2 separate regions of the Homo sapiens genome follow, and region 2 is linked to region 1. A link means that fine-mapping ties the variant in region 1 to the expression of a gene that starts in the linked region. Tissue or cell type: monocytes. Region 1 holds a variant in brackets; the other region holds the start of a gene. All regions are shown on one strand. Distances are between the middles of the regions.

The links. PIP is the estimated chance that this variant, and not a neighbour inherited with it, causes the effect.
Region 2: ECI2 starts here. The variant in region 1 is fine-mapped to the expression of ECI2 in monocytes (BLUEPRINT, PIP 0.95).

Annotation. Positions count from the first base shown.
Region 1 is chr6:4,088,864-4,096,968 of GRCh38, forward strand. It overlaps the pseudogene TEX56P. Among named protein-coding and RNA genes, the nearest start is that of FAM217A, 14 kb to the left of the region's middle. The variant CAAA/C (reference allele first, on the strand shown) is at 4,469.
Region 2 is chr6:4,131,027-4,139,131 of GRCh38, forward strand. ECI2 (enoyl-CoA delta isomerase 2) reads right to left here and starts at 4,549. Exons shown (of 10, transcript NM_206836.3): 1 at 4,485-4,549; 2 at 2,523-2,685. The coding sequence starts at 4,534. ECI2-DT (ECI2 divergent transcript) reads left to right here and starts at 5,046. Exons shown (of 4, transcript NR_103764.1): 1 at 5,046-5,222; 2 at 6,335-6,376. RefSeq lists silencers at 4,595-4,734, 4,895-5,104.

The DNA.
Region 1 (8,105 bases):
GCAACCTGTACTGTTTGCAGTATGGAGTGGCCTGACACTCCTGAAATTCTGTCAGGGTCAATGATAATAGGGCCGATTTGCAGCATTGGGTGGAGTCTGCCTCCTGAATTGTTCCTGCTTAAGTGGAGGAGAAAGATAGAGGCAGCCACCTGTGCTCATGAACTTAGAAAACAAAATAGCAGCCGCCACAGAGATTAAGATGCAATTCCGAAGCCAGGCGCGGTGGGCTCACGCCTGTAATCCCAGCACTTTGGGAGGCCAAGACGGGTGGATCACCTGAAGTCAGGAGTTCAAGACCAGCCTGACCAACATGGTGAAACCCCATGTTTACAAAAAGTAGCTGGGCATGATGGCGGGTGCCTGTAATTTCAGCTATTCAGGAGGTTGAGGCGGGAGAATCCTTTGAACCCAGGAGGTGGAGGTTGCACTGAGCCGAGATCGCACCACTGTACTCCAGCCTGGCAACAGAGTGAGACTCTGTCTCCAAAAAAAAAAAAAAAAAAAAGGGCAGACTGTCTCCTGGGGGTGTTTGTGTGGGTTCTTTGGCTATTTCCCAGGCTGACAGTTTTCACAGCCTCCTGCTGAGATTTCTTCTCTTCAGGTGCCTTAGTCTGTTTGGGCTGCTATAACAAAATACCATAGACTGAGGCCGGGCACAGTGGCTCGCGCCTGTAATCCCAGCACTTTGGGAGGCTGAAGCGGGTGGATCTGAGGTCAGGAGTTCGAGACCAGCCTGGCCAACATGGTGACACCCCATCTCTACTAAAAATACAAAAATCAGCCGGGCGTGGTGATGGGTGCCTGTAATCCCAGCTACTTGGGAGGCTGAGGCAGGAGAATCGCTTGAACCTCGGAAGTGGAGGTTGCAGTGAGCCAAGATTGTGCCATTACACTCCAGCCTGGGCGACAAGAGTGAGACTCCATCTCAAAAAAACAAAAACAACAAATACTATAGACTGGGTAGCTTATAAACAGAAAAATTTATTTCTCATAGTTCTGGAGGCTGGGAAGTTTAAAATCAAGGTAGATACCATGTCTGGAGAAAACTTTCTGGTTCATAGATGGCACCTTCTTGCTGTGTCCTCACATAGTGGAAGTGAGAGGTGACAGCATGCTGGTAGCCCTTGCAGCCCTCTCTCGCTCTGGGCGCTTCCTCGGCCTTGGCGCCCACTCTGGCCACGCTTGACGAGCCCTTCAGCCTGCCGCTGCACTGTGGGAGCCCCTTTCTGGGCTGGCCAAGGCTGGAGCTGCTTCCCTCAGCTTGCGGGAAGGTGTGGAGGGAGAGGCGCGGGTGGGAACCCGGGCTGCCCGCGGCGCTTGTGGGCCAGCGCCAGTTCCGGGTGGGCGTGGGCTCGGCAGGCCCTGCACTGGGAGCTGCAGGCCGGCCCCGCCGCCCCGGGCAGTGAGGAGCTTAGCACCTGGGCCAGCAGCTGCTGTGCTCGATTTCTCCCGGGGCCTTAGCTGCCTCCCTGCAGGGCAGGGCTCGGGACCTGCAGCCCGCCGTGCCTGAGCCTCCCCGTGGGCTCCTGTGCAGCCGGAGACTCTCCAACCATTGCTGCCCCCTGCTCCACGGCACCCAGTCCCATCGATCACCCAAGGGCTGAGGAGTGTGGGCACATGGCTTGGGACTGGCAGGCAGCGCCACCTGCGGCCCCGGTATGGGATCCACTGGGTGAAGCCAGCTGGGCTTCTGAGTCTGGTGGGGACTTGGAGAATATGTCTAGCTAAGTGATTGTAAATACACCAATCAGCACTCTGTATCTAGCTCAAGGTTTGTAAACACACCAATCAGCACCCTGTGTCTAGCTCAGGGTTTGTGAATGCACCAATCGGCACTCTGTGTCTAGTTAATCTGGTGGGGACTTGGAGAACCTTTATGTCTAGCTAAGGGATTGTGAATGCATCAATTGGCACTCTGTATCTAGCTCAAGGTTTGTAAATGCACCAATCAGCACTCTGTGTCTAGCTCAGGGTTTGTAAATACACCAGTTGACACTCTGTATCTAGTTAATCTAGTGGGGAGGTAGAGAACTTTTGTGTCTCGCTCAGGGATTGTAAATGCACCAATCAGCACCTTGTCAAAACGGACCAATCAGTTCTCTGTACAACAGACCAATTGGCTCTCTGTAAAATGGACCAATTAGCAGGATGTGGGTGGGGCCAGATAAGAGAATAAAAGCAGGCGGCCCGAGCCAGCTATGGCAACTTGCTGGGGTCCTTTTGCACGCTATGGAAGCTTTGTTCTTTCACTCTTTGCAGTAAATCTTGCTGCTGCTTGCTCTTTGGGTTTGCAGTCCCTTTATGAGCTGTAACACTGGCCGCGAGGGTCTGCTGCTGCATTCTTGAAGCCACTGAGGCCAGAAACCCACCAGAGGAACAAACAACTCTGGATATGCCACCTTAAGAGCTTAGAACACTCACCGTGAAGATCTACAGTTTCACTCCTGAGTCCGCGAGACCGTGAACCCCCCAGAAGGAAGAAAGTACGAACACATCCGAACATCAGAAGGCACAAACTCTGGACGCGCTGCCTTTAAGAACTGTAACACTGACTGTGAGAGTCTGCAGCTTCATTCTTGAAGTCAGTGAGACCAAGAACCCACCAATTTTGAACACAGGAAGGGGGGGTGGGGGGCATCTCTCTCACGCCTAGTTTATAAGGCACTGCTCCCGTGACCTGATCACTTCTTAAAGACACACCCCCACCACGTAATGCCATCACCTTGGGGGCTAGGATTTAACATGAATTTTGAGAGACATAAACATTCAGACCATAGCACCACCCTACCCAGCTTTTGTAAGGTTCACTTCCATCCAGTTTCAATAGAAATTGCATAATCTTTTGACGGAAATGCTCCTGAGATCCTCCTATATTCAAGCAGACTCCAAATGACTACAGCTGACCCTTGAACAACTTACTTGAACTGTGCAGGTCCACTTGTAGTGTGGCAGAAAATTAAAGAAAAATAAAACCAATTAAAGAAATAAGCTTTCCTGGATTAGGCTGACTTGTCCCAGAGGCAGCGACAGGCACAGCCCAGACACAGAAAAAGTCTTAATAATACTATCTACTGTGCTCTGGAAACTCTTCCAGCACTCCCTCAACATAGCGAGAAGAAAAACCAATTTTCCTTTTATTCAGTTTATAGATTTCTGTTCTCTGTAACTGGTAACTTAAAAGTATTCTGTTTTATCTAAGCAGTAGAGTGAAGGTCATGAGCCTCTGAACAGGCCTGAGTTATGGCCACCTGGGCGCCGTAATGAAGGTTATAGGATAAGCCCGTACCTGGGCAAAGTCTAGATAACAGACATCTGGGTTGCTTAGCGATGGTCATGTGTAATCCTGAGTTATGAACCTGTTACAACTTAATTAACTGTCTTTATCCTGCCTCTGTATCCCTGCTTTCACGCCAGTATACGCTTGCTTCAAGCTAGCCTACCCCCTTTTATGAAGTATGTATAAAAGGCAAGTACTGTCTTTGTTCTGCGCCCAGTCTTTGGACGTTAACTCTGTTGGGTCTAAGTGCACTCAATAATAAAGATATCCTGTATACACCCCAAGGTCTCTCTCTGGTCCTCTTGATCCGGCAACAATAGGTGGATTTTTTTCAGTAAATATATTGGAAATTTTTTTGAAGATGTGCCACAATTTGAAAAAATTTGTAGACCAATCATATAGTCCAGAAATAACAAAAAATTAAGAAAAAGGGTAGTGGGCGTGGTGGCTCATGCCTGTAATTCCAGCACTTTGGGAGGCTGAGGCGGGCGGATGATTTGAGGTAAGGCATTCGAGACCAGTCTGACCAACATGGTGAAACCCTGTCTTTACTGAAAATACAAAATTAGGCGGTGTGGTGGTACATGCCTGTAATCCCAGCTACTTGGGAGACTGAGGCAGGAGAATTGCTTGAACCTGGGAGTTGGAGGTTGCAGCGAGCTGAGATTGTGCCACTGCACTCCAGCCTGGGCGACAAAGTGGGACTCAAGAAAAATTAAAAGAGATGTTGTGAATGCATAGAATATATGTAGATACTAGTCTACTTTATCATTTAGTACCATAAAATGTACACAAACCTATTAGGAAAAGTTAAAATTTATAAAAACTTACACACAGAAACACTTACAGACTGTACTTGGTGCCATTCACAGTCAAGGGAAATGTAAATGAGAATAAAGATGCAGTATTAGGCCGAGAGTGGTGGCTCACACCTGTAATCCCAGCACTTTGGGAGTACGAGGAGGTAGATCACCTGAGGTCAGGAGTTCAAGACCAGCCTGGCCAACATGTTGAAACCCCGTCTGTACTAAAAATACAAAAAGTAGCCAGACGTGGTGGCCGGCATCTGTAATCCCAGCTACTCAGTAGGCTGAGGCAGGAGAATCTTTTGAACACGGGAGTCAGAGACTGCAGTGAACTGAGATCATGCCATTGCACTCCAGCTTGGGCAACAAAAGCAAAACTCCACCT[CAAA/C]AAAAAAAAAAAAATTATGCAGTATTAAATCATAACTGTAGAAAATTAACTGTAGTAATACTGTAGTGCTGTAGTAATTTCATAGCCACCTCCCGTTGCTCTTGCTGTGAGCTCAAGTGGTGTGAATATCCACTTAAAATGCCATGTGATGCTAATCATCTCTGTGGGAGCAGCTCATGTCTCTAGTAAATTGCATTTCACAGTAAAGTGATTTCACAGTTCTCATGTATTTTTTGTGTTTAGTGCAATACCATAAAACTTGAATAACACTATGGGACCCACAAAAAGTGCCATTAGTGATGCTAGAAGTACTCCCAAGAAGCAGAGAAAAGTCATGATGTTACAAGAAAAAGTTGAGTTGCTTGATATGTACTGTACATTGAATAGTTGCCTGCCACTTCAGACAGACGATTTTTCTTGTAAACAGATGGTGTAAACTTATAGTGTTGATAAATACAGTGCTGTCAATGTATTTCTCTTTCTTATGATTTTCTTTTTATTTTTTTGAGACAGAGTCTCACTCTGTCTTCCAGGCTGGAGTGCAGTGGTGCTATCTCCGCTCACTGCAACCTGCACCTCCCAGTTGCAAGTGATTCTCCATCTCAGCCTCCCGAGTAGTTGGGATTACAGGCACCCGCTACCACACCCGGCTAATTTTTGTAGTTTTAGCAGAGATGGGGTTTCACCATGTTGGTCAGTTATTCTTGAACTCCTGACCTCAAGCAATCCACCTGCCTTGGCCTCCCAAAGTGCTGGGATTACAGGCATGAGCCATCGTGCCCGGCCATGATTTTCTTAATAACATTTTTTTGCTTACTTTACTCTAAGGATGTGATATATAATACACATAACATATACAATATGTGTTAACCATTTATGTTAGCAGTAAGGCTTCTGGCCAACAGTAGGCTATTAGTAAAAGTTTTGAGTGAATCAAAAGTCAAAAAAGTAGCTGGGTGTAGTGGCATGGTACAGGTGCTAGACTACCATGCTCAACTACTTGGAAGACTGTGGCAGGAGGATTGCTTGAGCCCAGGAGTTCGAGACCAGCCTGGGCAACATAGCAAGACTTTTTTTTTTTTTTTTTTTTTTTTGCGACAGAGTTTTGCACTTGTTGCCCAGGCTGGAGTGCAATGGCGTGATCTCCGCTCACTGCAACCTCCACTCCCGCGTTCAAGCGATTCTCCTGTCTCAGCCTCCCAAATAGCTGGGATTATAGGCATGCACCAACACGCTCAGCTTTTTGTATTTTTAGTAGAGACAGGGTTTCACAATGTTGGCCAGAATGGTCTCGATCTCTTGACCTTGTGATCCACCTGCCTTGGCCTCCCAAAGTGCTGGGATTACAGGCATGAGCCACCGAGCCTGGCCAAGACTCTTTAACAAAAGAAACTTATGTGTTTATTTTCAACTGAGCAGGGGTCAGTGCCCCTAACCTCCATGTTATTCAAGGGTCAGTTGTATTTTCCAAGGGATTTACATATTTATTTACTTATTTATTTATTTATTTATTTTTGAGACAGAGTCTCAATCTGTCGCCCAGGCTGGAGTGCAGTGGTGCGATCTCGGCTCACTGCAACCTCCACCTCCCGGGTTCAAGTGATTCTCCTGCGTCAGCCTCCCGAGTAGCTGGGATTACAGGCACGCGCCACCACACCTGGCTAATTTTTGTATTGTAGTAGAGACAGGGTTTTGCCATTTTGGCCAGGCTGCTCTCAAACTCCTGACCTCAAGTGGTCCACCCACCTCGGCTTCCCAAAGTGCTGGGATTACAGGCATGAACCGCCAAGTCCGGCTGGGGTTTACATTTAGCTCAAAGAAAATCTGTGCCCTTGCTCCCCATACCTTCACCCCGTTGATAAAAGCACAGTTGGCTTCCAACACTGCCCTCTTTTCTCTGTGGCCACAGGCAGCTGTGATCCCAGCCACTCACCATTGTGTTTCAAGGTGTTACAGGCTCAACAAAATATATGGCTATATATTGGTGATTTTGCCTCAACAACATATATTGTCCCTCAACAAGATATATTGAAGTCCTAACTCCCAGCACCCCAGAATGTGACTAGATTTGGAAATAGGATCTTTACAGGGTGCAGATGTAATTAATTAAACTTAGGTGAACGTAATATGTGTAGAGAGAGTTCTTCATCCAGTATGACTGGTGACCTTATAAGAAGAAAGAGACACGCAGGAGCCGATGGCCTTGTGACAGTAGAGACAGAGATGGGAGTGATGCATCCATAGGCAAGGAATACCAAGGATTGCAGGCAAACACCAGAAACTAGGAAGAGACAAAGAAAGATTCTCCCCTCAAGGTTTCAGCGTGGCCTTGCTGACATCTTGATATCTGACTTCCAGCCTCCTGAATCGTGAGACAATAAATTTGTTGTTTCAAGTGACCCACTTTGTGGCACTGTTAGGACAGCCCTAGGAGACTGAGCACCAGTGTCAGGAGACATAGTCCCATTCCTCAGGTACTTCTCTAAAGTCCCCTTAAAGCCAAGGGTGGGAAGGGGAATGACATAGTACACAGCACTGCCCCAACTCTGTGCCTAAAGAAATCCTCAAGTGCCTTAAGGAATCCTGAATGAATCCTCCGTTTTTTCACATATTGATAGGGATGCTGTGCACGCATAGGTGTCCGGCACCTACTCGAGTTTTCTCAGACTTGCGGCCTTGGACAAAACAAGACAACAGAAAAATGTATATTTTCACATCCTGTTACATGTATATGTCCTTCAACTTAGCAATTCCACTTCTAGTTATTATCCTACAGAAACAACTTGTACCTGAGCCCAAAGATGGATAAATATGGCCGTGCACTGAAGCATTGTTTATAATAGTCAAAAATTTAAACAACCTATGACATTCAGTAGCAGAAGAATTAAACGAAGGCATATATCCACATAGTGGAATACTATTAAAAAGAAAGTTGACATTAACATGTCTACAATACAGATTATAGAGTTTTAATAAGCTGCAAAGGAAGATACACAATATGGATCCATGTATGCCAAAAGAAAACTATACATTTGTACATATATATGTGTATATAAATGCATAGAAAAGAGTTTTGAAGGAGACTTAGGAAATTCAGGACGGTGGCTACATCTGGAGAAAGGATAGAGCTTGAAGAGGGAAAATGAAGCAAAACTTTCCCTTTTTGCTATGTAGACTTCGCTGAGTTGTTTCATTTTAATTATTCCAATGGAAACCTTTTACTTTTGTAATTAAAATGCAACATTAACACTGAAAATGCAGTAATTATGTGAAGTTGGAGAAATGAGTTTTGATTTTCTAGAGACATTCTCATTCTATGTTGATTTAGATTTTGTCTCCGTAGCCTCCCAGTGTAGACGGTGATAGACGTCGGTACACATTTAGCAGCCGGTAATTCCTGCCATGTACAACTGCCAAGCAGCAGTGGGGTGCCTTTGTTTCAGAGGTATTTGGGTGCAGTGATTCTTTGCTATGGTTGGAAGCCAGTTTAAGGAGGTTCATGCAGCTGAGGTGAACAGCATTAAGGGGTAAGAAATGACTCCTCAGAGTTCTGAGTTTGTGCCTTCAGGGAACTGGCCTCAGGCTGAGTCCAGTCACTGGGAGCACATTGGCCTTTGAGGTCTTAAATTCATCA
Region 2 (8,105 bases), 42 kb after region 1:
TTGCCAAAAATGCACAAACAGAAAAAAGACTGGAAATAAATTATAACTGCCTGTCTATGAAAATAATGCAGGATAAAGGTTTTGGGGAAGTATTTTCTAAAAAAATCTAATGGTTCATTAGTTTTATATTGGTAATCACATTTTCCACAAACAATCAAAATATTCAAGCAAACAATCTTTACAAGGAACTAGTCAACAAATACTTGAAAACCCACAGCATATTCCAAAAGCCCATCTGAAGGTACAAAAAAAAACACCACTAATTCAGTGGTGGACTTTTGGTACCTGGGTAACAAAACTGTAGCTGAGGGGCTAGGGTGGGGCTATCAGAGCTACTGGTTCTTAGGAAACCTAACTGAAGAACATGTAAGTAAAAAGCAAAAAGGAATTAAATTTTATTTTTGAGGCTAGGTGGAGTGGGTGTTTTGAGATGAATAAAATATCCCACTCAGCTACTTTTCAGAAATAGCAATTTAAAATTCCAGTTAAAATTTTTAAAATTTTATAATACAGTTAGAGAGGAAAGAAGAAAGAGTCTTTGAAAAACAAGCCAGGTGTGGTGGCTCACACCTGTAATCTCAGCACTTTGGGAGGCTGAGGTGGGTGGATCACCTGAGGTCAGGAGTTCGAGACCAGCCTGACCAATATGGTAAAACCCCATCTCTACTAAAAATACAAAAATTAGCCAGGCATGGTGGCAGGTTCCTGTAATTCCAGCTGCTTGGGAGGCTGAGGCAGAAGGATTGCCTGAACCTGGGAGGCAGAGGTTGCAGTGAGCTGAGATGGTGCCGCTGCACTCTACCCTGCGTGACAGAGCAAAACTCTGTCTCAAAAAAACAAAATAAAAACAAAAGAAAAAAGAAAAAAGAAAAAGGCAGTAAAGGAGGTTATGAATTTCTTTAGACAGAGATAGTGTCATCTGGCAAGAGTTGGCCAACCTAGAAGTTAGAGGGAACACAGTCCACAGGATAAGGGCTTGCCTTTGTCTCCTGACTGTCCTCAATGCTAACACCAATTGCAAGGCTGGAGGGCACCCAGGACCACCCTCAAGTGCAACAATTTGCTAGAAAGACACCCAGAACTCACTGCAAGCTGTTAAACGCACAATTAATAGTTTATTAAGGGAAAGGATAGAGATTAGAATCATCCAAGGGAGGACACACACAGGATGGAGTCTGGGGCAGTAGCAAATGTGGAGTTTCCATTGTCCTTTCCCCATGGAGTCAGCATAGGGCACCTCTACCAGAATTGATGTGACAGTACACAGGGAGTCCTGCCAACCAGAGATGCTCAGCTCATCCAGTCTCGGTGTCCAGAGTTTTTAACAGGGCTCCATCACCTGTGCATGACTGTATAACCTGAAGCCCCCACCCTAAATCACATCGTTAAGACAATCCAGGCAAATAAAGACTCCTACCAGTCATTAGAGATTCACTTCCCAGAAGCTGAGGGCAAAGCCACACCTCTTCTGGGGCAAGGTTAAATTTTTTACTATACACACCCATATGAAAGAGAAGCTCATACCCATCATAGGACAGAAAAATAGATAACACAGGAGCCCAGAGAGGCAGACATGCCAGGGAAGTCTTTGGCATTGAAACTTAAGAGCTTTAGTTTTTAAATTTTGTTATAAAAATTTCCAAACATACCAAAGTAGAATACTATAATGAATTCCCAATACCCATCATCCAGGTTCAACAATTATCAAACTGCCTTACTTGCTTCATCTCTCTCTCTCTTTATTTTCTTTCGTTTTTGGACAGAGTCTCGCTCTGTCACTCAGGCTGGAGTGCAGTGGCGCAATCTTGGCTCATTGCAACCTGCACCTCACAGGTTCAAACGATTCTCCTGCCTCAGCTTCCCAAGTAGCTGGGATTACAGGTGTGCGCCACCAGTCCAGCTCATTTTTGAGTTTTTAGTAGAGATGAGGTTTCACCATGTTGGCCAGGCTGGTCTCAAACTCCTGACCTTAAGGGATCTGCCCGCCTCAGCCTCCCAAAGTGCTGGGATTACAGGCGTGAGCCACCATGCCTGGCCTCATCTATCCTTTTCTTTTTGTGCTTAGAGAACTTCAACTATCCATGCTATTTCACCCCTATATCCTTAGTACACTTTTCTTAAAAATATCAACATTTTCTTATATAACCTTGACACCATTAACGATGATTTCTAGGTATCTTCTAACACTCTGTCCTTACTCAAAACTTCCCCAATTGTCTTAAAAATACCTTTTTCAGTTGATTTATTCTAATCAAGAGCTAAGTAAGGTCTACAAATGTGAATATTATATCTCGTAAGTCTCTTTTACTCGTGTGACACTGAGGCACTTTGTGCCTTAATAGTATTTCAAGGTCTAATATAAAAAACTGGCATATATATATATACACACACACACTCTTCAGAGAAGAGGGAGCAAGACAAACCAAAATGTTAAGGCCACATTTTAGTAAACACACAGTGTATTTATTTAAGAAGTCATTTGCCCAAAATTCTTTAAATAACGTTCGACCGTAGGCATTTACCTGCTTATATAGCGCGTAGAGTTTTAGCTTCACTTCGTTTCCTGGATCCTTTTTCAAGAGTTTCACTTGATTCATTGAATTTTCAAAGTCCTTCTGACTGGCTCTCATTGCTGTTCTATTCATGTGCAGCTGAACTACCGGGAAACTAGTGACCTGCAGAGAACTACAATTAGGCAGACTGATTTCTATTTGTTCCCAACCCTCACATTTCTGCAGCCTGATTTCTAATTGTTCCCAGCCTATACATAACAAAATGCCATGTTTGTCTATAGATATTTTCTTTATACTTGCCTCAGCAAACTGGCTGCAAATAATTGGCTGTAAGGATTCCAAGATAATAAGTCAATACAGAAGCTAACAGTAGTAACTTTAAATAAAAGGAAAAGTAACCATCCAGGGAGGTATCTGTAAGCAACTAAAGATAAAAGCAGCCAGAACAGGAATGACCATGTAAATTTTGCCAAAGGCAAGAAGTGAAGTGCATGCAAGACAGTGGACAGCAGGAAACCAAAAGGCTAAAGTGCACAGAATTTAGTGAAGTGTCCCAAAGTCCTGAAACAGCCTCTGCACTCACTGATAAGCCATAAGCTATATCAGGTCAATTCTTGCCTCTTTGCTGGCGAAGCTGGTGTTCCAACATACACACAGGTGGAAGGAGGGGAGAATGGATGTGAACATACAAGAAATATTCAAAAGAACACACGAGCAGTTGCTGGCATTCCAGATAGAGCCACAGCCTTCTCAGCAGATGGGAGGGAATCTACCTGCAGTGGAAGGGAGTCAGTGAAGGGGGCTCAGCAGGCGTGCCCCTTTCTATGGGTATGTTTAACCAGCCAGCCAGGAACAGAGCAGAAACAGCAACCACCGCGGGGGTGATCAGCACGTTTTTAAGCACACATAGTGAGCGGGGGTGGGGTGGCAAACTTGAATGCACAGGACTCAGGCCACAAGCTAAAAATGGAGTTCACGACGATGACACTGAATAATAGAGTTAATGGCAAAAAAGATGATTAAAATAATACAGGTTACAAAGCCCAAACCTAACACACAAACACAATTATGTAACTCGAAAATGGTGCAATGAACTCTAGGTTCAAACTTTGGACTATTAGTAACTGATTCAGTAAGATCAGCCTAGAGTAAGTTTTACATTAAAATGATTTTCTGTAAAGGGAAAAACTGCATCTTATATGGCAAATTCCACGTAGAAAACGAAAGAAAAATTTAAAATATCCACAGAAAGCCGAAATGTACAAGTTTCCACAAAATGTGGAACAAATTTATTTTTAAATAAAGCGTGAGTTTTAAAAACAAATAGCAAAAACACGACCATTTAAGAAAATACATAAAGTCGGGAAAATCACTCATAATTCTACCACTTCAAGGCCACCACCGTGTTTCGGTTTTGTTCCCTATGCACAGATTCGTGCGGGTTCCCGGGACCCCAGGGAGGTGCAGCGTGCTTCTTAGCCGTTACTCTGTACCCGGCCATTTCACTTTATAGCATACGTGTTCTCCAAGAAGCAGAGTGTTAAGTCCACACGAGTGATAACGGCTTGCGTTTACCTCGCTTTTAGCAAGCGACGCTTTGCACCCCAGAAGCAGCCCGGCTGGGAAGTGCAGGCCCGGGTGCTCAGCTGGGGCGGCTCACCCGCCCGGAGTCCGGCCCCAGGAGGATGGGAGCGTGCGCGGAGGCAGGCGGAGACCTTGGGGACTGCTGACAGGGAACCATAGCCCTGACCTCCCGACGCGCCCATCCTGACCACTCCGGGCCCAGCGGTGCAGGAGGGCGCGCGTGAGGTCGTCACTTTTTAGCACTACCTCACCGGAAAACCAGCAAAGCAAAATCCTGTTGCCACCTAGACAATAGGGAAGGAGGGTCTTCCAACGGCGGCGACCTTCGCCTGGACAGCGGTATCCTGCGGGCGACCATGGGCCGAACGGCCGGGACTCCAAGCTTACCTCGGACACGAACGCCGCGCCAGTCTCCAAGCCAAGTACGCCATCGCCATCCCTTGGGCGGCTCTAGGGCTGCGGGGGCTCGGGGGTGGGGCCGGGTCTCGGGGGCGGGGCCTAGCTCGGTCTGCGGGGGCTCGGGGGTGGGGCCGGGTCTCGGGGGTGGAGCCGGGACTCGGGGGCGGGGCCTAGGCTCCCGGGCTGCGGGGGCTCGGGGGTGGGGCCGGGGCTTGGGTGCGGGGCGGGGCCGAGAGCAGAGCCCAGGCAGGAGCCTGGGGCATGGGCGGGGCCAGGGTTGGGGCGGGGCCAGGCTGAGAGCGTAGCCACGCCGCATTCGCCATCGCTAGCCCGTGGCCTCCTCTGGGGCTGCGGGGGCTCGGGGGTGGGGCCGGGGGGGTCGGTGCGTGGGCGGGGCGGGAGCTCTAGGCGGTTAGGAGTCGGGGCTCAGATGCGGGGGCGGGGCCGGAGCGAGGCCGGGTATCACCCGGGAGTGGAGGAAGTGCGGGGGGTTCGCGGCGCGGGGAGGGTGATCCCGGGAGGACTTGCGCGGCGCGTGGGGCGGGGCACAGATGCTCCCCGGCCTGGCTCCGAGTAACTGCGAGCTGGAGGCGCGGCTGCTCTCTCGGGCGGACCTCAGCTCTGCGAACCCTGTGGCTGCCGGAGCACTGAGCGCCCTGCCCGGAGTCCCGCGGAGCCTGGCGAGGAGGGGTCGCTGCATCCCGAGGGCCAGCCCTGAGCCGGGAGGTGGGGTAACAATTGAGGGCGTATGCTTAAAAGCTGCTAGGTCATGCATCCCCAAATCGAAGGTTTGCAGACCTGGTAGGACGCCTGGGGGTCAGAAGTGATTTTTGGAGTACCCAAGTTTTTAGTGTCAGTGAAGAGTTTGTGGATATTTTTGAGTTCTGCTGAGGCATTTGCAAAGTATTTTCTTTGGGGAAGAATTCTTAAGAGTTGGAAGGGCCTTGGCTGTGTCACCTTGTCCAGTTCCCAGAGAACCAAAAAACAAAACAGAACAAAACGAAACAAAACCACCCCTCTAAATTCTGTGCCCAAGTTGTCCCATCCAAGCATGCCTAGGAGTTTTAGATTTATGTAGCTGACACCTGTGGACTACCTATAGTGAGCCAGGCTAATTGTAAGTCTTTGGACAACCCTGTAAGGAAAATGATATTGCCCTGTTGAGCTGATGTGGAAATTGCCCTGTTGAGCATATTGCCCTGTTGAGCTGATGTGGAAACTGAGACCCAGAAAGATTAATCAGGTGAATTCCCCAAAGACAGGAGGCTTGCAGGTGGGCAGAGTCCAAGTCTCAAGTAACTTTATCATTAAGTTTCATCAGGTAGATCTGGGTAATAGTGTAGATGGGGCAACACCAAAAGTCAAATAGAACAATTTGGGCTTATCCCAAAGAGATTTTTTTTTTTTTGAGATGGAGTTTCCGTCTTGTTGCGTAGGCTGGAGTGCACTGGCACAATCTCGGCTCACTGCAACCTCCACCTCCTGGGTTCAAGTGATTCTCCTGTCTCGGGCTCCCGAGTAGCTGGGATTACAAGCATGCGCCACCAGGCCCGGCTAATTTTTTGTATTTAGTAGAGATGGGGTTTCACCTTGTTGGTCAGACTGGTCTCAAACTCCTGATTTCAGGTGATCCACCCGCTTCGGCCTCCCAGTGTTGGGATTACAGGTGTGAGCCACCACACCTGGCCTCTCCATATATTACAAAGTGGTAGTTGGTAGGCTGAGCTGCCTCTCTCAGAGACCTTGACTCTCTCCAAGGCTGTTAGATAACCTCAGAGGTAATGGAAATGCAGTAATCAGATATTGCAGATAATACAAGACTCATTCATTTCCAGAAGATGAAACAGCTGTCATGGAAATATTTTTTAAATCTCATACTGGTAAGCATATTTTGATAGTGAAACCTTTTGCAATGCAAGCAAACTACTCTCAGGCTTATACCTACCACAGAAAAGAGTGGGGTGTGGGAAATTAGCTTATCTTTTTCAAACTATAATTTTAAAAATATAGAAAGAGCATGTGTCAAAGATTTACTTAGCTCATTAATTAGGGAACCAACAGGGTGCTAAAGAAGAAGTTAAAAGACTAGTTTAATATAGTCAATGTTAAAAAAAGAATGCTGGAATAGATTGCAAAGTTAGAAACAAAACTGGTTAATATCCCATAGAGCAATAAAACCATAACCTCGGGAGGAATGTTTTTCCTATTGGAGAAATCATTTGCATATCTACCAGCTGTCATTTACTAAAGCCCCATTATATCCAGCATTTGAGAGAAAGGAGATGGTTAAAGAGACAGACATTCCTGGTTAAAGAGACAGACATTTAGATTCCTAGATCCTAAAGAGGGTCATCTTGGGTCCGTATTTGGTTTACTAAACTGTTAAGAGGTGTCCAGACCATGCCTTGTAAACATGGCTGCCATGGCCCTGTGGGTGGGAGGGCCAGTTGCAGCAAAAGGGAACCATTGTGATTTTGGTAGATTCTCCACCTGAGCTTGAAGATCATTGTATCTGTGCTAAGGAGTTTGGATTCCGTGCTGAGAGCAAGCAGAGAGCCATTGAAGATACAATTGGCATGCCCAGCTATCCAGTTCTCAGTGAAATCCTGGACTCCAGATATATCTTCAGGGTGTAATGGTTCTGGATAAGAGTAGGAAAGGCAGAAACTCAGTCAAGACCTCTCTAAAGCTCTAATCTTCACCCTGTTATATAACCAGCTTCCCCTGGAGCTTATGAAAATCTTGGGGAGGGGGTCCTCCAGTCTGGTTAGATCCTGTCTTATTGATTGCAGGGGACTGATGCTGCCTGGGAGGGCCGTTGATGTTCTTTGGGTTGAGAGAATCTCAGACTCTCTTAGCAGGTGCACAGGAAGTGTTGTCTCCGGCTATAATGAATCTTTGGGGTCAGCATATCGACTTCACAGTGTTGTGCTCAGTGGTAGTGTGAATGTTTCTTTTTTAAGATCATAGAATAGATTATATCAGAGTAGAATGTTACATGATGACTCTGTCAGTCATGATAATTTTTATTTCCAATATTTACATCATCAGATACTGTTGTTACAGCATGTACAGAGTCTGTCACATTCAGTCTTGAGGAACAATTCTGATACACTGTCCCAATTAACAGTGCAAGCTAGAAACCTGGAAGAGTCTTTGATTCCCTTACCTCACTGACACCTCACATCTATCATTCATCAAATACTAGTGATTCTGTCTCCTAAATATATTTTTTTAATTTTCCCCCTCATCTCACATCCCTCTGCATCGTCTTAATTCATGCTCTCATTGATTTTGAGATTACTGTTACCTGGATTCCTGTAGCAGCCACTTCCCAGTTTTGCTAATTCAGTTACCTCTGCAATCCATTCTCTCCCTGCTTCCAGGCTGGTCTCCCTAAATTTTAAATCTTACACTCCACACGATTCTCCCCGATCTCTCCCCTTGGCTGAAAATCTCTTAGTGAGTCCCCTTTGCCTGTTAAACAAACCCAAGCTGCTTAGCACTGGCAAATAAGGCCCACAAGATTTGCCCTTGCCTACCTTCTCAGGCACCTCTTTCCAGCCCCACATGTTAACTTCCCATTTCAGGTGAACTTGGGATGCTCAG